Linked DNA regions of Homo sapiens: regions 1 and 2 are each linked to region 3. The links come from fine-mapping of genetic effects on gene expression. A gene starts in region 3. Each other region holds a variant in brackets. All regions are shown on one strand. Distances are between the middles of the regions.

What was found. PIP is the estimated chance that this variant, and not a neighbour inherited with it, causes the effect. A credible set is the group of variants that fine-mapping cannot tell apart.
Region 1: its variant is the best candidate, but not a certain one, in a credible set for the expression of SPINT1 in whole blood (TOPMed, PIP 0.52).
Region 2: its variant is the best candidate, but not a certain one, in a credible set for the expression of SPINT1 in monocytes (Fairfax 2014, PIP 0.58).

The regions. Positions count from the first base shown.
Region 1 is chr15:40,880,602-40,888,276 of GRCh38, forward strand. No RefSeq gene overlaps it. Among named protein-coding and RNA genes, the nearest start is that of VPS18, 10 kb to the right of the region's middle. RefSeq lists an enhancer at 4,346-4,395. The variant TTCTGACCTCGTGA/T (reference allele first, on the strand shown) is at 3,652.
Region 2 is chr15:40,370,023-40,377,697 of GRCh38, forward strand. DISP2 (dispatched RND transporter family member 2) reads left to right here. Exons shown (of 8, transcript NM_033510.3): 8 at 1-7,675. The coding sequence ends at 296. LOC124903472 (a long non-coding RNA gene) reads right to left here and starts at 7,626. Exons shown (of 4, transcript XR_007064597.1): 1 at 5,601-7,626; 2 at 1,817-2,072; 3 at 861-995. The variant G/A (reference allele first, on the strand shown) is at 3,716.
Region 3 is chr15:40,839,999-40,847,673 of GRCh38, forward strand. SPINT1 (serine peptidase inhibitor, Kunitz type 1) reads left to right here and starts at 4,050. Exons shown (of 11, transcript NM_003710.4): 1 at 4,050-4,188; 2 at 4,492-5,031. The coding sequence starts at 4,557. SPINT1-AS1 (SPINT1 antisense RNA 1) reads right to left here and starts at 4,526. Exons shown (of 2, transcript NR_146468.1): 1 at 4,181-4,526. RefSeq lists silencers at 3,488-3,670, 3,832-4,061, 4,142-4,201, 4,492-4,731 and an enhancer at 3,623-4,194.

The DNA of each region.
Region 1 (7,675 bases), 41 kb after region 3:
AGTGAGCTGAGATCACGCCACTGCACTCCAGCCTAGGAGACAGAGCGAGACTCCATCTCAAAAAAATTAAAAACAAAAACGAAAGAACACCAGTGGTGGGGAAAAGTTATTCCAAGGGCTCCATCCAGAGAGAGGTTGTTTTTGAGTGAATGCACTCTCATTGTCTTTTTCTGTTTCTTCTGCATACTCCAGTCCAAGACCCCCAAAATCAGGCCTGCTGCTTAGGATGAGCTCAGAGACTGAGATGGGCAGGTCAGAAAGCTTTGAAATAAAAACAGAATTCAAGAAAAAGAATTTTATATTTAACACTTGCTTACCAACATACTGATAATAATTATATATTATATATAACTTAATATATAATTATATATTATAATATAGTTATATGATACAATAATAATAATACAATAACTTGACTACCCACTTTCTGAGCTTTCAGTGGAAATTGGGCCACCATAGGTTTTTCTCTTCCTTTTTCTTTATTTTATGCATTTTATTTATTTTCTTTGTGGAGACAGAGTCTTGCTGTGTCACCCAGGCTGGAGTACAGTTGTGCGATCAGGGCTCACTGTAGCCTCGACCTCCCAAGCTCAAGTGATCCTCCTGCTTCAGCTTCCTCAGTATGTGGCACCACAGGTGCATGCTACCACACCTGTCTAACTTTTTAATTTTTTTGTAGATACTGGGTCACCCTATGTTTCCCAGGTTGTTCTCAAACTCCTGGGCTCAAGCAATCCTCCTGCCTCAGCCTCCCAAAGTCCTGGGATTATAGGGGTGAGCCACGACACCCAGCAACACAGATTTTTCTCTATTTCCATGTGCTTGTGTCCTTGGAGGGAGTTTGTGGCAAATTTACCCAGCTGGGCTGAGTTTGCCCCATGGTGCTGCTGGTCAACCCTTCAAGTCCATTTCCTCAGTCCCCACACCCTCTAGACCACCCTTGGGCTCAGGCTGGCTCCTGGACTTCTGTCCTGTCTTCCCTGCTCCCTCGCACCCAGACTTGGCCTCCGCTTCTCCCTTCATTTCTCTCCACCTCGCCATCCAGCTGATCCCACCGCTACTGCCCCCTTCCAACCTCTCTTTCCGCTCAGATCTTGCACCCAAGCCCTAGCTTTTTAAATGCCTGCAAGAGTTGCCACCTAAAACCTTTACCTAAAAAACTCCCCTACTAACTTCCTTATTTTCTCTTATTTTTATTTTATTTTTATTTTTGAGAGAGTCTGGCTCTGTCACCCACGCTGGAGTGCAATGGTGCAATCTCAGCTCCCTGCAACCTCTGCCTCCTGAGTTCAATTGATTCTCCTGCCTCAGCCTCCTGAATAACTGGGATTACAGGTGTGCACCACCACTCCTGGTTAATTTTTGTATTTTTAGTAGAGAGGCGGTTTCACCATGTTGGCCAGGCTGGTCTCGACCTCCTGAGCTCAAGTGATCTGCCTGCCTCGGCCTCCCAAAGTGCTGGGATTACAGGCGTGAGCCACCACGCTGGCTCTATTTAATTAATTAATTTATTTATTTATTATTATTATTATTTTGAGACGGAGTCTAGCTCTGTCGCCCAGGCTGGAGTGCAGTGGCACAATCTCGGCTTGCTGCAACCTCCACCTTCGGGTTCAAGAGATTCTCCTGCCTCAGCCTCCCGAGTAGCTGGGATTACAGGTGCCCACCACCACGCCCAGCTACTTTTTGTATTTTTAGTACAGACGGGGTTTCACTGTGTTGGCCAGGCTGGTCTCGAACTCCTGACCTCATGATCTGCCCACCTCGGCCTCCCAAAGTGCTGGGATTACAAGCGTTAGCCACCGCGCCTGGCCATTTATTTATTTATTTTTAGAGATGAGGGGTGTCTCGCTCATCTCTGGACTCAAACTCCTGGCCTCAAGAGATCCTCCTGCCTCAGTATCCTAAGTAGCTGGGATTACAGGCGTGCCCCACTGCATCCAGCACCTCAGTATGTTTTTGAGATTCACTCATGCTGTTGTGTATAAGAGTAGCTTGTTTTTTTGTGCTTTTTAATTTTTATTTTACTTATTCTTTTTTTAGAGATGGGGTCTCTGTTGCCAGGCTGGAGTGCAGTGACATGATCATGACTCCACTGCAGCCTTGAACTCCTGGGCTCAAGAATCCTCCTGCCTCAGCCTCCCAAGTAGCTGGGACTACAGGCACATGCCACCACACCCGGACAGTTCTTTTTTTTTTCTTTGCTGAGTAATATTCCATTATATGGATATACCACAGTTTGTTTATTTTTTTTTTTTTTTTTGAAATGTCGTTTTGCTCTTGTTGCCCAGGCTGGAGTGCAGTGGTGTGATCTTGGCTCACTGCAACCTCCTCCTCCCAGGTTAAAGTGATTCTCCTGCCTCAACCTCCCAAGTAGTTGAGATTACAGGAGCCTGTCACCACGCCCGGCTAATTTTTCTATTTTTGGTAAAGATGGGGTTTCCCCACGTTGGCCACGCTGGTCTGAAACTCCTGAACTCAGGTGATCCTCCCACCTCGGCCTCCCAAAGTGCTTGGATGACGGGTGTGAGCCACCACCACACCCAGCCTGTTTATTCTCTTGATTGACATTTGACTTGTTTCCAGTTGCAGCTATTATGAATAATGCTGCTATAAACATTCATGTACAAATCTTTGTGTGGACATATTATTTTCATTTCTCTTGGATAAATACCCAGATATTGAATTGCTGGGTCATGAGGTAAATATGCATGTTAAGTGGCTGTTAGTAGTTGTACCATTTTATATTCCCACCAGCATTTTATGACACCCCAGTTGCTCCACAACCTCACAACACTTGGTGTTGTTGGTTTTTAATATTTTGGCGCTGGGCACGGTGGCTCACGCGTATAATCCCAGCACTTTGGGAGGCTGAGGTGGGCAGATCACTTGAGGTCAGGAGTTTGAGACCAGCCTGGCCAACATGGTGAAACCCCGTCGCTACCAAAAATACAAAAATTAGTTGGGCAGTGGTGGGTCCCTGTAATCCCCACTACATGGGAGGCTGAGGCAGGAGAATTGCTTGAACCTGGGAGGCAGAGGCTGCAGTGAGCCGAGATCGCGCCACTGCACTCCAGCCTTGGCGACAAGAGCCAGACTCCATTTCAAAAAAAAAAAAAAATTGGCCAGGCGTGGTGGCTCACACCTGTAATCCCAGCACTTTGGGAAGCTGAGGCGGGTGGATCACACGGTCAGGAGTTTGAGGCCAGCCAGACCAAGATGGTGAAAGCACGTCTTTACTAAAAATACAAAAATTAGCTGGGCACGGTGGTGGGTACCTGTAATCCCAGCTACTTGGGAGGCTGAGGCAGGAGAATCACTTGAACCTAGGAGGTGGAGGTTGCAGTGAGCCAAGATCTTGCCACTGCACTCTAGCCTGGGCGACAGAGCAAGACTCCATCTCAAAAAAAAATTTTTTAATTAAAAAAATATTTTGGATTTTGTTGCTGTTGTATTGTTGCTGTTTATTTTATTTTATTTGTTTTTTTGAGTCTCGGCTCACTGCAACCTCTGCATCCAGTGTTCAAGCAATTCTCCTACCTCAGCCTCCTGAGTAGCTGGGAGTACAGACACGCTCTACCATGCCTGGGTAATTTTAGTATTTTTAGTAGAGATGGGGGTTTCACCAAGTTGGTCAGGCTGGTTTCGAGC[TTCTGACCTCGTGA/T]TCCTCCCGCCTCAGCTTCCCAAAGTGCTTGGATTACAGGCGTGAGCCACCATGCCTGGCCTGCTGTTGCTTTTAATACTAAATCTCATCATTTTTTAAAAGCTTGAAAACAGGCTGTGCACAGTGGCTCATGCCTATAATTCCAACACTTTGGGAGGCCAAGACAGGGGGATTGCTTGAACCCAGGAGTTCTAGACTAGCCTGGGCAATATAGCAAGACTCCGTTTCAGTTATTTTTTTAAGTTTGAAAACAGTTTCTGCAATAGGTCATACGGATGAATATATAGTTAACTCATATATACGCGTGTGATATAGTGTGTGCATGTGATGCACGTTAACATGCCAAGTCATGCATTCATTCAGCAGGCACTTCCCAAGTACTTACAGTGTGTCAGGCCTTATGATCTAAAAGGTTGTCAGGGCTGGAAGGATGAGAGGTGGCTATTAGATTTCACATTAATCAGATGAGGTTCCCTGGCTTCAACATCTTTTGAAATATCTTCTAGACTACTAAAGGATAGGTAAGAAGCATAGCACCCAGCTCTGAGGCAGTGCTCTGAAAACCATTATTTCCTGAGCACTGACCTCAAAGATCTCTAAATGGACCACAACAAGGGTTTGGCATTTTTTTTTTTTTGAGACGGAGTTTTGCTCTTGTTGCCCAGGCTGGAATGCAATGGCGTAACCTTGGCTCACTGCAACCTCCACCTCCTGAGTAGCTGGGATTATAGGTGCGCACCACCACGCCTGGCTAATTTTTGTATTTTTAGTAGAGACAGAGTTTCACCATGTTGGTCAGGCTGGTCTCGAACTCCTGACCTCAGGTGATCCACCCGCCTCGGCTTCCCAAAGTGCTGAGATTACAGGCGTGAGCCACTGCACCTGGCTGGGTTTAGCTTTTAGAGAATCACAGAATTATTAGAGATGGTTAAGTTCCCCCTTCACAATTTACAGGTGAGAAAAGAAAAGCGTAGCTCAGAGGGGGTAGGGGACTTGTCCAAAGGTGTTGGCTAAGTTGGGTTTCATATCTGAAAACAAGAGGGGCTTTAAGAGCTTGGCCAAGGAGGCCACTGGAGAAACAGCATGGAGAGTGGTAGTGGGGAGAGCAAAAACCAGCGGGGTGAGGGTGGGGCTCCTGGCAGATGTGGTGCTGGCACAAAGCATTGACTCCCCATTTCCCATGCTCCCTAAAGAAGCTTATAAACTATGCTGACAACTCAAACATTTCATCTTTTTTTTTTCTTTTTTTGAGATGGGGTTTCGCCCTGTCACCCAGGCTGGAGTGCAGTGGTGTGATCTCAGCTCACTGCAGCCTTGACCTCCTTGGCTCAAGCCATCCTCCCACCTCAGCCTCCTGAGTAGCTGAGACCACAGGCATGCGCCACCACGCCTGGCTCATTTTTGTATTTTTTTTTTTGGTAGAGATGGGGTCTTACTATGTTGCCCAGGCTGGTCTGGAACCCCTGTTTTTGTTTTTGTTTTTTTTTTAGACAGAGTCTCGCTCTTGTCGCCCAGGCTGGAGTGCAATGGTGCAATCTCGGCTCACTGCAACCTCTGCCTCCCAGCTTCAAGCGATTCTCCTGCCTCAGCCTCCTGAATAGTTGGGAATACAGGTGCCTGCCACCAAGCCCAGATAATTTTTATATTTTTAGTAGAGACGGGGTTTCACCGTGTTGGCCAGGCTGGTCTCAAACTCCTGACCTCAGGTGATCCACCCGCCTTGGCCTCCCAAGATGCTGGGATTACAGGTGTGAGCCACCGCGCCCGGCCACTCCTGGTCTTAAGTGATCCTCCTGCCTCAGCCTCCCAAAGCCCTGGGGCTCCAGGTCTGAGCCTGTGATGGAGTGGTGTGTGATAAGCTTCTTCTCCTAAAGCAGGGGCCGGGCAGTAGGAATGCAAGGGGACCTGCCACTTGTTTACAGGTACCTAGACCTGCTGGTCACCTTTAGGAAAGAGCCCAATGCAGTTGGGGATCTGGAAACTGATTCCCTTAAAATAATTTCTACCCTCTGTCACTTGGGAGACCCTTTCATACCCCTAAGGATGTGTGAACCCCTGTTCGAGGACCCCTGGTTTGAGGATGCTCTCATTTCTGACCTAGACAAGTGAGGCCACTGGGCCTGCAGTCCTGAGGGCAGTGGGGGGATGAAAGAGAGCAGCTTGGCTAGAAGCTCCCTCAGTGAGAGAGGGATGACAGTAGCAGGGAGGGGATACTTTTTGAGAATTGGGGCGATTCAGGTAGGTTTAGACACATGCAGAAGGGAGCCAAACATGAAGGAGAAGAAAGAAGGGCGTGGAGAGCTGTTCTGAACAGGCCAAGGGTCTTCTTTCCTCAGCATATTTTAATGGAAGCCAACAACTGTGCTAGGCCCTGTGCCAGGAAGTGGTGTGCTAGAGACACTTTTCCCTGTCTGGTGAGAATTAGAGAAGACAGGGGCCTGGTCCTGGCAAGGGGAGGAGTATCAGGGAAGCCATTCTAGAGGGAGCAAATCCTCAACACCAGACACTCTAATGTCCAAATGGGTGTGGTGCATTTTGGAAACATCCTTAGATCAGCGTGACTGGGGCTCTGAGCAATGAAAACAGATGGAATTTAACTGGGGATGGGGCAAAGGACTGCTAGGTTTTCTTTCTTAGTAAGTCTTTTTTTTTTTTTTTTTTTTTTTTGAGACAGCAGGCTCACTCTGTCACATAGGCTGGAGTGCAGTGGCACAATCTCAGCTCACTGCAACCTCTGCTTAGCGATTCTTCAGGCTCAGCCTCCCGAGTAGCTGGGACTACAGGTGTGCACCACCATGTCTGGCCAGAATGCCAGAATTCCAAAGGATTTATGCAGATACTTCACCCTCAAGGAAGCAAAAACTCCCACCCCTTAAGTGCAGGGTGTGTAGGTGTGTAGTGACTTCCTTCCAAACAGTACAGCATGGAAAGGAGGGAAAAGAGTAACTCTGTAGTGGAGAATCCTGACAAGCACTATCTTGGTCAGGTGATCAGTCATGATGATAAATCATGTTGATAGTGTGTATCCTCGATATAATAGAGAGGTGTTGATAATGGTTCTTTATCTCCCCAAACCATAAATAGCCCTAGTCTAAACATGAAAAAAAATTAAATGAATTCCAACAGAGAGCATTCAACAAAATACTTGCCTAGTACTCAAAATTATCAAGGTAATCAAAAACAAGGAATATCTGAAAAACTTAAAAACTGCCAGTCAAGAGCAGTCCAAGGAGACATGACGACTGTTTTTCCCTATACATAACCTGTGATAAAATTTAATTTATAAATTAGGCCCACTGTGAGATTAACAACAATAATAATATAGGACAGTTATAACAACAGACTGTAATAAAAGCTATGTAGGCCAGATGAGGTGGCTCATGCCTGTAATCCCAGCACTTTGGGAGGCCAAGGCAGGCAGATCACCTGAGGTCGGGAGTTCGAGACCAGCCTGACCAACATGGAGAAACCCTGTCTCTACTTTTAAAAATACAAAATTAGCTGGGCATGGTGGCACATGCCTGTAATCCCAGTTACTCGGGAGGCTGAGGCAGAAGAATCACTTGAACCCGGGAGGCGGAGGTTGTGGTGAGCCGAGATAGCGCCATTGCACTCCAGCCTGGGCAACAAGAGTGAAACTCCGTCTCAAAAAAAAAAAAAACAAACAAGTTATGTGAGGCTGGGTGCGGTGGCTCACACCTATAATCCCAACACTTTGGGAGGCTGAGGTGGGCAGATCACCTGAGGTCATGAGTTGGAGACCAGCCTGGCCAACATGGTGAGACCCCGTCTCTACTAAAAATACTAAAATTAGCCAGGCATGGTGGTGGGTGCCTGTAGTCCCAGCTACTCGGGAGGCAGAGGCAGGAGAATTGCTTGAACCCAGGAAGTGGAGGTTGCAGTGAGCCGAGATTGCACCATAGCACTCTAGCCTGGGCAACAGATCAAGACTCCATCTCAAAAATAAATAAATAAATAAAAGTTAGGTGAATGTGTTCTCACTCTCTCAAA
Region 2 (7,675 bases), 470 kb before region 3:
AGCCCAGTGCCCGTGTACCAGATTCCGTGGGTGTGTCCCCAGATGACCTGGATGACACTGGGCAGCCAGTCCTTGAGCGAGGCCAGCTCAATGGGAAGCGGGACACCCTGTGGCTGGCGCTGAGGGAGACAGTGTATGACCCATCATTGCCCGCTTCCCATCACAGCAGCTTGTCCTGGAAGGGCCGAGGGGGGCCAGGGGATGGCAGCCCTGTGGTGCTGCCCAATAGCCAGCCAGACCTGCCAGATGTTTGGCTGCGCAGGCCCAGCACTCACACGTCAGGCTATAGCAGCTGAGGGGGACCCGGGGAGGCTGGACAGGGCGCGGAACCCTGTCATGGATGACAAGGCAAGGGCAGCAATAGGCTGGAGCCCGAAGGTATTTCTCCAGATCCACAGGGAGAGGTCTCACCCTCCAGCTGTGGATGTTAAACCCTGCCAGATGTCCCAGCCTTGATCTGTCTGCTCCTACTCCTCACATCTGGAGGATTCCAGCAGGAGGGGTTTTGGAGGGGACCTGCTTGCGACCTGCTGAGGGCTTGTCTGCTCCCACAGCACCATCTAAGACCCCTCCTCTAGAAGTGGGGAAGGCCAGATGTGTAGCTTCGGGTATCAGAGGAGGCTGACCTGGCCCCCATCCCAAGTTACAAGAACTTCAGTGAGACTAAGGGACCCCCATCCTAGGGATCTTGTCAGGGTTCCTTACTGACCAGAGGAGCCCGCAGCAATCTCCACAGCCTCCTGGGTCTCACCCCTTTCATGGGCTCTTCATCAGGACACTTCCCTCTCTTTTGGGAGCTTCTCTGGGCAGAATTGGGCTGGGACCTCTCTCCCCAACTGCCCTGCTCTCCTCATACTCACCGGTTTGACCAGAAATTCTCCAAATCCAGCCATAGATGGCTGCTGGGTGTGCAGCAGGAGAAGGAGGATGGTCAGCCTTGGAGCATCTCTCAATTACGGGACAGTCCCTCTTTGGAAGCAGGCTCCTGTGCTTTCCTGTGTTAATAAACAGTAATAATCCTTTCCATCTCTGCACATTTTAGTCTCCTTGGAATCTATCTCACTACTTCACTACAGGGTAGCCTGACATTGGTCAGGTTCTTTTGACACCCAATTTATAGGTAAAGACATTGAGACTAAGTAAGATGAACTGACCTCAGGGTCACTTAGCCACTAAATGGCAGAGCGGTTTCATTCCACCACTACAACCTCCAGTTTCCCTTTGGCTACCTGCCTTCTTTCACCGCTAGCACCCTCCTCCAATCTGCTTTCTCTGGTGTCTCTGACTGAATCCAGCCACCCTCTTTGGGCCTCCACTTCCTGAGAGAGCTGTATTCCAAAAAAACCCAGGAGTTCCTCTCCATCTCCCCCGTGCCTCCCTCTGGAATCTGGCTGAGATGTCTGCTGGCCCTGGGGCGTCCTAGCTGACCTGATTCCCAGGCTTCAGGACCGTGCCTCTTCTACAGCCACAGTGTATAAGAGGCCCCACCAGAAGAGGTACTGAGGGGCAGAAGAGGTGAAGCCAAATCCAATCAAGGCAGGAACTCAGACCTGCCCTTTGGGAAGTGTATGAGTCTGAAGCTGCTTCCCAGGTTAGGGTCCCCAGCTTTTTAAGGACAAGTCTCTCTGTGGAGCGTTAAGCAGACCAAAGGCTGGTTCCTCCTTCCCAAACTTCCTGGTAGGGAAGTTTTATCCCATGTGAGAGCTCATGACACCAGGTGGCATCAACATGTTTATTGAACACCTACTTTGCATATGGTATTACAAGGGGACAGAGGTGTGGAAGAAAAATTGAACACCACCCTCAAAGAGCTCACCTTCTAGCTGGGGAGACAGCTTATGCACACATGCAGGCATCGGATGGCTCACGGACGGCACCATATGCCTGCCATCATCATTATTGTTGGAGCTCAAGTACCCAGGACTGGGTAACAAGAAAGGCTTTCTGGAGGAGGAAAAACTTGAGCTGGGCTTCAGAAGACCAAGCGTCTCAGACTGGAAGGGGCCTTGGCGATCGTTTATTCCAGCAGTTTTCAAATTTTGTAGCCTCAGGACTCTTTCTTCAAAGAAGCTCTGTGTGGAAAAACAATATATAAAACAGGTAAAAGGCAGCTACTCTGGTGGGCGCTGGGTGTTGGGGGTGGAGTCAGCTTAGCCTGTCTTTCCACTGCAGCCTCTCCGGGTATCTGGGGAACCCCTCCGGCTCCTGGCAGCTTCACAGAATGTAATATGAAAGCTACTGATCCAGGCTATTTTACAGAGGAGTATCAGGAAAGGGAAGGGATTGTTCTAGGGCCAAATAGTCTGTGGCAGAGCTGGAGGCAAATCAGATGATGTTTTTGTTTTATTTAGTTTTTTATTATTGAGACCTACTTCCTACTCCAAGTAGCCCATGAGAAGTGGAGCAGAAACCGAAAAGAGACATGGGAGTTGTGGAAGAGACAGAAGGCAATAGGCAGGTACGGCAGGATACCTTGGCTCCTTTGCAAGATAAGTAAATCAAGATGAGTAACTCCTGACACCAGGAAGGGGAAGCTGGAACCTAATTTGAACCTGTCCCCAGGGGGTCTGCTGGGACCTCTCTCTTCATGTCCAGGTAGCATTCGGCCTCTCTGACCTAGAGCTGCTCATCAGCCCTGGTTTCTCTGATAATGGTGTCCCTCTGTCATCATGCAGCCAGGCTGAGAGAGCCCTGGTATCCTCAGGGACAATGAGCCACAGGGAGGTTAAGGGAACTCTTCCTCCCAAGCATGAGCAGAAGACACTTTGCCTGAACATAACCACTGAAATGTTAGAATGCAGAGGGGTGGATGGGTGGGCATGAGGGATCTGAGCACACCCGAGGGCCCTACCTGGGGATTTCCAGGTCATATTCTTGCAGGCTGTGGCCACACAACACTTCAGGAAGGTGAATGAGCCATAGCAGCTGATGCATTGATTAGATTTGTTCTTTATGTTGCCAGGCCCAGAAGAACCCAGCAGTAATCTAAAACATTACCTTATACCTAGAATGGCCCAAACCAACAGCAGGCAATCCACATCAGCAGGAAATCCAGCCTGCCTCTCTAGCCCTGACTTTGGAATGTGGAACTTAAAGCACTTCCTATTTCCTTTGAGTTGCAGCAGATCCTTTGCTTTATTATTATTAGGGGCACTTACAATGAGTGTATGGCCCTGGAGACATGGCTTACAAGCACGCTGTGAGGCGTACAAAAATGAGTCAAAGCACTTATGCTTGCCCTGCAAAATTCAAGAAATGATTTCTCCCCACTCAGACACTCTAATAGAACTACATTAACATTTGGAACTTGAGGTCATTTCCCCTATTTGTGCCACTGATCCTTGAACTCACATTCTGAGTACGAGTATGTATCCTGTATGCTATTAAAATATAACTTGAGGCCGGACATGATGGCTCATGCCTGTAATCCCAGCACTTTGGGAGGCTGAGGCAGGTGGATCACTAGACGTTAGGAGTTTGAGACCAGCCTGGCCAACATGGTGAAACCCCGCCTCTACTAAAAATACAAAAATTAGTTGGGCGTGGTGGGGGATGCCTGTAGTCCTAGCTACCCAGGAGGCTGAGGCAGGAAAATCATTTGAACCCGGGATGCAGAGGTTGAAGTGAGCCGAGATCGTGCCACTGCACTCCAGCCTGGATGACAGAGCAAGACACCGTCTCAAAAAATAAATAAATAAATAAGTCGGGCACGGTG[G/A]CTCACGCCTGTAATCCCAGCACTTTGGGAGGCCAAGGCAGGTGGATCATGAGGTCAGGAGATCGAAACCATCCTGGCTAACATGGTGAAACCCCGTCTCTACTAAAAATACAAAAATTAGCCGGGTGTGGTGGCGGGCGCCTGTAGTCCCAGCTACTCGGGAGGCTGAGGCAGGAGAATGATGTGAACCCAGGAGGCAGAGCTTGCAGTAAGCCGAGATTGCGCCACTGCACTCCAGCCTGGGCAACAGAGCGAGACTCCATCTTAAAAAAAAAAAATATATATATATATATATGTAAACTTGATATAGTCTGTTACCATGGGAAAACCATCCTTCCATGGCTGTGGTGATTTGGGGACTTTTAGAGTGACAGTGTTAGACAGACTGATTTTATTGGCTGAATCTTAGATTTTACTGATATATAGCATATCCCATACCATGATATGCGGGCAATATTCCAGCTTGAGACAATTTTTTTTTTTTTTTTTTGAGACAGAGTCTTGCTCTGTCGCCCAGGCTGGAGTGCAGTGGCACAATTTCGGCTCACTGCACTAATTTTTTGTATTTTTAGTAGAGACAGTAGAGTATTTTTAGTGTTAGCCAGGATGGTCTCGATCTCCTGACCTCATGATCCGCCTGCCTCGGCCTCCCAGAGTGCTGGGATTACAGGCATGAGCCACCGCGCCTGGCCGAGACAATTTTTAAAAAGACATTTCTCAAGAGAGTTATAAGCCAAAATTTCCCTAGCCCCCTCCAACTCATTCTGTCCTTCTCCCAGTGCATGTCAGGACAGGGAAGAAGGCTTTAAATCAGATTTTAAGAAAGAGGATACATTGGTTTACAACCTTTGCCTATCGTCCAGAGAGTTTCTGATCTTTTCTTTTTTTTTGAGACGGAGTCTTGCTCTGTCGCCCAGGCTGGAGTGTAGTGGCACGATCTTGGCTCACTGCAAGCTCTGCCTCCCAGGTTCACGCCATTCTCCTGCCCCAGCCTCCCGAGCAGTTGGGACTACAGGCACCTGCCACCACGCCTGGCAAATTTTTTGTATTTTTAGTAAAGACGGGGTTTCATTGTGTTAGCCAGGATGGTTTCGATCTCCTGACCTTGTGATCCGCCCACCTCGGCCTCCCAGAGTGCTGGGATTACAGGTGTGAGCCACTACACCCGGCCCTGATCTTTTCTTTGACGGTGGCAGTATCTCATTTTTTGATAATACACATGGGTAATGGCAAGCTCTTGGGACCCCATGCCAAGCATCAAGATCCCATTTACCTGGTGATAGGAAAGACAGACATTCCTCACCCTTTCTACCCACACCCTTGTTCACAGGGATGACTGTAACTAAGGTCTGCAGGTATTTATGCTTAGGAGAAGAAATCGTAGTTCAATTCACCAGGAATATGAGAAACAAAAGAAAGCCACTATGTGCTATGTAAATGTCTGGCCATCCAAAGCCACCTTATGCAGAGGAACACTGGAAGGGCCTTGATAAATTTCTCATAATTATTATCGGGCCTCTTTGTGATTACTCACATTTTTCTCAATATAGGGGAAAGATCAGCATTTTACCAAATCCACAACCATCAAACAAACAAGAGCTTTAATATTGCTAAAGAAAATCACACAGCTGAGCAGATTGATGTAGATTTGAATTCATGACCACCTATCTTAACTGGACCCTCAGCTCTGCCTAGCTAGTATTCATTCTAGCTACTAGTTTTGATTATTTGTATTGACTCTTTTATATTTTCTCCACCTTCCTCAAATATCTCACCTTCCCCCACCCCTCAGTGGACAAAAAAAAAAAAAAAATTCTTCATGAAGAAAACTGAAGCCTTCAAATAGAAATTTCCTCACCTTCAAGGCACCAAAGCCACAACTTACCTACCCCCGCTCCTGCCTGCTCCTCTCCCCATCCCTTCTGCTACAACGAAGGAAGCAGTAATGGCTCCATCAATGGCTTCTCACACTTGGTGTCAGAGGCCTTCACACGAGGGTTTGCACTCCCCTACAAGGACATGAAGACTTTCTAGAAGGTAGGTGGACACAGATAGTTTTAAAGTAATCAGTTTCCAGAGCCGCCTTCTCCATATGTTCCCCTCCTTATATTGGTGGGCCTAAGAAGCCACAGGCCTGACAGCTGTCCTTCCCAACTTCCACTTTCCCAGTTGCCTCCCCTCCCTCATTCTGAATCCTACTCTGGCTCCTTGCTCTGCGCTGTAAAAAACAAATAAAAGGGCCACTTGAGAATGCTCTGCTTGAGGAAGTCCTTGAAAGAGCAAAGCCTGGAGAGCTTCTTTGAGAAAGTTCACAGGGGCAGCCCTGTGGCTCAGTTCTGTGCCTTCTTCATTTAAGAATTCAAATTCATTGACATGTTATATTGTAAAATATATAAATATATATTAAAAAGGAAAAAATAATAAAAATTTTTAAAAATAATTCAACTTCAGGTGAGACACAGTGGCTCATGCCTATAATCCCAGTGTTTTGAAAGGCTGAAGTGGGAGGATGGCTTGAGGCCAGGAGTTTGAGACCAGCTTGGGCAACATAGCAAGATCCCGTATCTACAAAAAATAATTTTAAAAATTAGCTGGGCATGGGCCGGGCGCGGTGGCTCACGCCTGTAATCCCAGCACTCTGGGAGGCCGAGGCAGGTAGATCATCTGAGGTCAGGAGTTCAACACCAGCCTGGCCAACATGGCAAAACCCTGTCTCTACTAAAAATACAAAAATTAGCCGGGCGTGGTGGAGCATGCCTGTAGTCCCAGCTACTCAGGAGGCTGAGGAAGGACAATCGCTTGAACCCTGGAGGCAGAGGTTGCAGTGAGCCAAGATCATGCCATTGCACTCCAGCCTGGGTGACAGAGCGAGACTACATCTCAAAATAAATAAATAAATAATAAAATAAAAATAAAAATTAGCTGGGCATGGTGATATGCGCCTGTAGACCCAGCTACTCCAGAGGCTGAAGCAAGAGGATCACTTGAACTCTGGAGTTCGAGGTTACAGTGAGCCATAATCACATTATGGCACTCCAGCCTGGCAACAGAGCGAGACCTTAACTCTAAAAAAAGAAATAAAGAAGAATTTAAACTGAAAGTGAGATGGTTGACACAGGATACATATTAACCACATTGATTTGAATGGAAAAATAAAATCAGACTTTTTCTGTTAGAAGGTCAGAATTGGCTCACAGGTTTGACAGAGAGGATAGTCTTTGCAAGTAGGATGTATGGTGGACATTTTCCCTAAAATGGAATAACTTTAATCTGCAGCTCCACAGTTTGAACAAAAACAGACTGAAGGCTGGGCGTGGTGGCTCATGCCTGTAATCCCAACACTTTGGGAGGCCTAGGCGGGCAGATCACGAGGTCAGGAGATCGAGACCATCCTGGCTAACATGGTGAAACCTCATCTCTACTAAAAATACAAAAAAATAGCTGGGCGTGGTGGCGGGCACCTGTAGTCCCAGCTACTCAGGAGGCTGAGGCAGGCGAATGGCGTGAACCCGGGAGGCGGAGCTTGCAGTGAGCCGAGATTGCGCCACTGCACTCCATCCTGGGCAACAGAGTCTCAAAAAAAAAAAAAAAAATTTTTGACTGAAAGTACAGATACAACTTCCCTTTCCAGCCAAGATGGAGGAGCAGGGGCCAAGTTTATCCTCCTGCCTGAAACAACCAACCAAACAGTAAATACATGAAATAATGAGTTTCAAGACACTGGACATGAGGTAACAAAAGACAGTGATCTCTCAGAGGCAAGAAACAAACAAGGAGAACCCCTCGGTTGCCCAGCTTACCGCTTGAGAGGATGTATTTCACGGAGGGAGAACCCAGGCAAAGCAAGTGACTCTGAGGTGAGGGGATAGCTGGGAGTGTGGAGCAGCCAAGCTGGCTAGAGTGCTCAGGACAGGGTACTGGAGAGGAGAAAGGTGGATATATAGAGAATTCTGGGGATCT
Region 3 (7,675 bases):
AGGCTGGTCTCGAACTCCTGACCTCAAGCAATCCTCTTGCCTTGGCCTCCCAAAGTGTTGGGACTACAAGCGTAAGCCACGGTGCCCAGCCAGGGGAAGGGTTTTAGCTGACTCTCCTCTGACAGCTCTGACACTCTCTGCCTAAGCAAATACTGAACTTCATGAGTCGGTCCAGGGAACAGTTGGCTCTGTACACTCTGCCAGAGAAGTTCTTGGGGATGACTGAGGGTCTGAACAGGTGAGGGACAGATGAAGGCAGGGCTGGAGGAGGGAACCACATGGCAGTGTGCAGGGTGGCCTGGAGTTCCATCAGGAAGCTGGCACAGAGCCTAGATTAAGGGCAGCAGTGGGAACAGACAAGAGATGGATGTGAGTGATTACCAAGGAAGACTGTCATCAAATATGGTATGTGGAGGTCATCACGGTGTGTCTCTCTCTTCATTATGGAAGCATCCCATGTTCACTGAAGGGATCTTGGAAAATATTTTTAAAACTAGAAAGAAGAAATGTTATCCTACAGTCTCACCATTCAAATACCATCACTTTCCCTACTTTGATGGCATACCTTATAGTCTTTCTTCTCTTCACATGTAGTTTTTCTTATTAGTATGTAAGAAGCAGCATAAGGTAGTATGGAAAGTATGGCTTTTAATGTCAAAAAGACTTCAGATACAATCCTGGCTCTGTCACTTTTTTAAAAGAATCATTTCGACTTTTATTTTGTTTACTTATTTTTGAGACAGGGTCTAGTTCTTTCACCCATGCTGGAGTGCAGTGGCATGATCATAGCTCACTGCCACCTTGACCTCCCTGGCTCAAGCAATCCCCCCACCTCAACCTCCTGAGTAGCTGGTACTACAGGCATGCGCCACTATGCCTGGCTAATTTTTTGTATTTTTTTTTATAGAGACGGGGTCTTGCCATGTTGCCCAGGCTGGTCTTGAACTCCTGGGCTCAAGCAATCCTCCTGCCTCAGCCTCCCATAGTGCTTGGATTACAGACATGAGCCATTGCACCTGGCCTCAACTTTTATTTTAGATTCAGTGGGTACACATGCAGGTTTGTTACATGGGTATAGGGTTTGGGGTACAGATGAGCCTGTCACCCAGGTAGTGAGCATATTACCTAAAAGGTTGTTTTTCAGCCCACGCTCCCCACGCTCCCCTCCCTCCTTCTCTCTTCTGGTAGTCCTCAGTGTCTATTGTTCCATCATTATGTCCATGTGTACTCAATGCTTAGCTCCCATTTATAAGTGAGAATATGTGGTATTTGGTTTTCTGTTCCTGCCTTAATTTGCTTAGGATAATGGCCTCCAGCTGCATTCGTATTGCTGGAAAGGACATGATTTTGTTAATTTTATGGCTGCATAGTATTCCATGGTACGTATGAAGTACATTATCTTTATGCAATCCATCATTGATGGGCATCTAGGTTGATTCCATGTCTTTGCTATTGTGAATAGTGCTGTGATGAACGTACAAGTGCATGTGTCTTTTTGGAAAAACAATATATTTTCCTTTGGGTATATACCCAGTAATAGGATTGCTGAGTTGAATGGTAGTTCTAAGTTTTTGAGAAATCTCCAAGCTGCTTTCCACAGTGGCTGAACTGATTTACATTCCCACCAACAATGTATAAGCGTTCCCTTTTCTCTGCATCCTCACCACCATGTGTTTTTGTTGTTGTTGTTGTTGTCGTTTCAAGTAACATTTATTGAGAACTCTTTGTGTCAAATGCTTTGTCTGCATTAACTCAATTAATCCTCATAAAAAACCTTATGAAGCCCCACTTCCCATTCAAGGAGACTAAGGCAGAGAGATCAAATAACTTGCACAAGGCCACACGAATAGTAAGTGGCAGATGCAAGAGCTAAATCCAGTAGTCTGAGTCTGAAGCTCACAAGTTCAACTTCTCTACAACCTGTCACCACTCTTCGTTCACTACCTGACCTTGATGGAGTCAGTGAACCTTTCTGCAAAGTGGAAGCAATTTTTAGAGTTGTCCTGAGCATTAGCAATCCTATGTCAAGTGCCTGGAGGGAACACAGTGGGCATCTCAACAAATGGTGGGTGCTCACCACTTGAAAGTGAGTTATGGGTTTAAGCAAGTTGAATCTGAGGTGAGGGCAGAACTTCCAGATGAAGTCAGAATTGCAAAGGCCATAAAGCCCAGGGTTTAAGCACTGAAGCCATGGAATTGGCCTGCCTGGGCTCCAATCCCTACTCTGCCGCTTCAATGCTGAATGACCTGACAAGTCAGTTTACCTGTCTGAGCCTGTTTGCTCATTTGTAAAATGGGGCTAAAAATACTACCTCCCTAGGTTTGTTTTGAGTATAGGGTAATATGTGGGCAGTGCTTAGGAACAGAGTTTGGGCATTGTCAGTGCTGAATTCATGTTGGTTTTTATAATGGTGTGTATAATGGATGTAATGATAAATTTATGGTGATGTAATATTACCATAAGGTAATATTTTCCTGTATTAAGATTCTTGAGGTCAGGCACAGTGGCTCACGCCTATAATCCTAGCACTTTGGGAGGCCGAGGTGGGTGGATCACCTGAGGTCAGGAGTTCAAGACCAGCCTGGCCAAAAAGGTGAAACCTCGTTTCTACTAAAAATACAAAAATTAGCTCGGCGTGGTGGTGCCCACCTGTAAGCCCAGCTACTTGGGAGGCTGAGGCAGAATTTCCTGAATCTGGAAGGCAGAGGTTGCAGTGAGCCGAGATCGTGCCATTGCACTCCAGCCTGGGTGACAGAGCAAGACTCCGTCTCAAAAAAAAAAAAAAAAAAATAAATAAATAAATAAATAAAGATTCTTGAATGTGTTAGCCATAAGGGGAAATCAAATCACAACAAAACCCTTTCTTCCCAGTGACTGCACAATCATTTTCTTCATTCCCAGCATACCACCATTGTTGTATATCCACCAGTGTGCCAGGGTCTGTGGATAAACCCTAAACATCCAGAGAAGGGGAGACAGGCCCCAGATTCCCACCCCAACACGCATCATGTGAGCAGCTGGAGGATGTTGCAGTTCAGCAAAATCCAAGGGTTGGCCACAGGATCTGCTAGGCAAAGCTGCTCTGGATGAGAAACTGGGAAGAATGTTCCCATTGGTTTGGGGGTTGTTAAGCCATCAGGAAAAGGTTTGGAATCTGTATTTTAAGAGAGCATGCTATGTGATTCCTTCCTCCAGCCCTGCCTTCATCTGTCTTTCACCTGTTCAGACCCTTGCCGTAGAGAATGGTCTCTTAAGAGTTTTTTACTCAGGAGGAGCAATGAGCTTGGCTTCAAGGAGTCCACTGTTTCGTGAAGGGCATTAACTCAGCTACTTGGTGAACTGGAACCTCCAGGCTTCCAAGGATGACATTTCCCTGGAAGAAAGTAGCCAGCAGCGTCCCCTTTGTGAAAGAGAGGAAGCCTGGGCTCCAGGGAAGGGGGCAACAGTCCAATGAGCCATAGCAGGGAATGGACCGAACTGTACATACAAGATGAGGAGGGGCCTCGAACAACAGGGAAGCCCCGTGGAGCACGCAGGGGAGCCTGGACGCGGGGAATCGCCTCCGTTTCTCACCCTGACAGCAGGGAGGGCTTCCCGGAGCTGACAGTGAGGCAGACATCCCGGATCCCTGTTATCACAGGTGCAGCCACGCAACTTTTGGGTTACCTTCCCGCCACGAAATGGAAATGATTTCCTGAGGGCCGGAAAGATCATTTGCATCGGGCCTCAGGTCTGGGGCTGGGAAAGCAGGCCCCGGCCGGAAAGGAAGACTGGAGGCCGCCGCCCCAGAGGCCGGACCCTCGCGTCCCGGCCGCATCCCCTCCCGGCTGGGTATGCGCTTCGGGCGCGGGGCTCCCTCGCGAGGCTGGACTGGGTGGAGCCCGAGAGCCCCTCCGGGGAGCTGGCTGCCGGGGAGGCACCGGGGCTGCGGGGCCGCGGGGCGGGCCGGGCCTGGAGCTCCGCGCTAGAGGCGGCCGCAGCGCACCGGGCGTGGGCGGGGCCGGCAGCGCAAGGGTGAATGTCGGCCCCGCCCCGACGGCGCTGACTCAGTTTCACCAGAAACCAGGGGGAGAAGGCGGCCGAGCCCCAGCTCTCCGAGCACCGGGTCGGAAGCCGCGACCCGAGCCGCGCAGGAAGCTGGGACCGGAACCTCGGCGGACCCGGCCCCACCCAACTCACCTGCGCAGGTAACCCGGGCCCCCGCGCGCAAGGCCGAGGCGCAGGCGGAGCGGGCTGGAGCATGTCCGGCCCTTTGTTCTGCGCTCGTGCGTGTGTCCGGGTACTTGAGCTCCCTAGCGGTCCGCCTGTCCGTCTGTCTGGCTGCCGGGTCCCTGGAGGGCGCGTGGGAGGGCCGGGCCCGTGCGCCCTCTTCGATCCTGGGGTGCTCCGGTCCCTCCTCCCCGCCACTTCCTCCCGGCCGGCCCGCCTCCTCCAAAGTCTCCCGGGCTGATCAGGTGTGTCTCCTCCTCTGTCCCCTCCCTTCTTCTCAGGTCACCAGCACCCTCGGAACCCAGAGGCCCGCGCTCTGAAGGTGACCCCCCTGGGGAGGAAGGCGATGGCCCCTGCGAGGACGATGGCCCGCGCCCGCCTCGCCCCGGCCGGCATCCCTGCCGTCGCCTTGTGGCTTCTGTGCACGCTCGGCCTCCAGGGCACCCAGGCCGGGCCACCGCCCGCGCCCCCTGGGCTGCCCGCGGGAGCCGACTGCCTGAACAGCTTTACCGCCGGGGTGCCTGGCTTCGTGCTGGACACCAACGCCTCGGTCAGCAACGGAGCTACCTTCCTGGAGTCCCCCACCGTGCGCCGGGGCTGGGACTGCGTGCGCGCCTGCTGCACCACCCAGAACTGCAACTTGGCGCTAGTGGAGCTGCAGCCCGACCGCGGGGAGGACGCCATCGCCGCCTGCTTCCTCATCAACTGCCTCTACGAGCAGAACTTCGTGTGCAAGTTCGCGCCCAGGGAGGGCTTCATCAACTACCTCACGAGGGAAGTGTACCGCTCCTACCGCCAGCTGCGGACCCAGGGCTTTGGAGGTGAGGAGGGTGCCAAGATGGATGGGTTTGGAGAGACTCAAAAAAGGGACTGGTTATGGGGTCCTAGGGGAGACGAACATCAGAGAGGAGTTAAGGAGAGTTCACTTTTTTTTTTCTTTTTCTTTCTTTTTTTTTGCGACGGAGTCTCGCTCTTGTCGCCCAGGCTGGAGTGCAATGGCGCAATCTCTGGTTGCTCACTGCAACCTCCGTCTTCCACGTTCAAGTGATTCTTCTGTCTCAGCCTCCGGAGTAGCTGGAACTACAGGCACCCGCTACCAGACCCGGCTAATTTTTTTTTTTTTTTTTTTTTTTTTTTTTTTGGTACAGACGGGGTTTCACTATGTTGGCCAGGCTGGTCTTGAACTTCTGAACTCAGGTGATCCACCCACCTTGGCCTCCCAAAGTGCTGGGATTATTTCTACCTGAAGCCCTCCTTAGAAGTAGGCAGTACAGCCGAATCAAGCCTGGTGATCAATGGGGTGACAGATGTCACAGCCAGATCGCCTTCACATCGGTAGTAGGCAGTACAAACAGTAAACAAATGAAAGGGGACATGAGTAGGGAGGGCAGGGCCCAGGCTCTGGCTCCTGAACTCAGGATGTTCAGAGGTGATGGGCTGGTGCTCACAGGGAGGCCTTTGGCTCTGGGCTGTGTGTACTGGAGGGGAGAGGAAGTCCCCAGGACTCCTGACCTCTGGCACTGATAGGCTGATTGAAGGAGTGAGCTGTCTGGATGGTCTGGTGACTAGAAAGGCACCTTGGCCAAGCACTGGTCTGGGCACACCGATGCCCTGTCAGGTGAGCCTGGCCATAGTCTCCTCCACTGGCTGGACTTGGGACTGCTTAGCATCTCTCTACCCCCTAGGAATGCATTGGCCTTTTGGTGGTCCAGGAAGACTGCCAGATCCGAGACTAGAAAACAAGCCCAGTCTGCGGTTGATCCAAAGGGAGAGAAGTGATGTTGTAGGCACAGAAGCCTAGAGGCTCTGGGGTGGGGGATGAGGAGGGTTGTGGGGTGAGTCAGCCTGTTGGTATGTATACCTAGTAGGGAAGGGATGTCAGCTGTCCAGGCAGGTGTGTGTGCATGCGCATGAGCCAGACAGGGCTCTCCCTGCTTAGAATCTGGTAGCCAAACCTTGTTTACTTCCATAGATAAAGGCAAAGCGGAGGCCAGGGCTCCTCCTCTTTCTTCCCCGGACTGAACTGTCTGCTGGGATCAGGGCCAGTCCAGAGCCTTGGTTCCCCCTTTCTCTCTACCTGCTGTTCTGGCCAGGTGGGGCTCCAGGGCAGGGGTAGGTCACCTCTCATAACCTCTGTGAGCACTTTACAGCTTACTGATTGCTGTGCCACACATCCTCTCACTCAGGCCTCATCACAACAACTTCCAAAAAGGGTGCTACTAGCAGTCATCCCACTTTTTAGATTAGGAAACTAAGACTCCCATGTTAAAGAATTTGCCCAGGGTAACACTGCCCATAAATGGTAGGCCTGAGATTCACCCCAGGGGAGACCTCCAAAAAAAGTCCTGTGCTGTTTTTCACACAAGACCATCTCTCTGGTAAAAACCTAGCATTCTGACCCAAAATAGCCCAGTGGATAACAGAACCGGGGATTGGGGAGTTTGGGGGCCAGAACTGGGCTGGGGCCACATCTGGGGGTGGTCTCCGTTCTGGAAAGTGGAGAAAGGGCTTTCCTCCGCAGACTTTTCCTGGGCTAGTCTCTCTGCCAGGCTAAGGAGGGTCCTCTTTCCTCCCTATCCTTCCAGTAGCTCTCCTGGGTCTCTGAGGAGAGGCGAGATGGGGATTCCTGTGGATGGGAGGGGGACATATCTGAGGGCCAGTCTGGGCCACCAAGTCCCACTGAACCAGGGCTGCAGCCTGTTCCACAAGGAAGTAGCAGAAAGTGTAGGTGGTGATGACTCTTACTGACCTGAGTTGCTCATGCCCTTCCTGCTCCACAGAGGCCCCATGGGAGTCCCTCTCCAGAGCCAGAGTGTGAAATTCTGGAGTCTGGTCAGGGAGCTTAGCTGGACTATGGCCCCATGGTCTTGAGACCAGCCATCCTCATCTGGAAACCCCCAGGACCTGCCTGTTTGCCACAAGAGAGGGTGGAGTGGGGATTTCCTGGGACATTGAGGGAGGCAGGTAGGGCTTGGACTTAGTATGAGCTCCAGGCCATTCTAGGCCATTCTTAGAGTGCTGCAGTGCTTTGGGAAGAGGAAAAAGCTGTGTGTGTGTCAAGGGGTTTATTCTCACCTGGGTCCAGTTAGAGAGGTTGGAGGTGGGTAATGACAGGGTAGAGCCATTAAGGGCTAGGGTGGATGAGGTGGGTTGGGTGACGTGGGTCACGGGCACTGAGAGCTTCCAAACCTTTGATTCTCCTATTGCATAGATAAATGCTCCCCAGAATGGGTTTGTTTGTTCCTCCTTCTGCCTGTGGCCAGGCCAGGCCAGTACAGATTCCTGCAGCTGGAGGCGGAGCAGCTTGCACTTCCTCTTCTCCCCTTCTCTTCCCCCACCTCTCCTCCTCCCCAGTCCTATGAAGGAGTGGCTTAGGAGGCGGAGTCTGCACTTCCCTGAGGTCCTGAGACCTGGTAACTAACTGGGGGAGGGGCTGGTTTTATTGCCACTCTAGCCCTTTGCTCT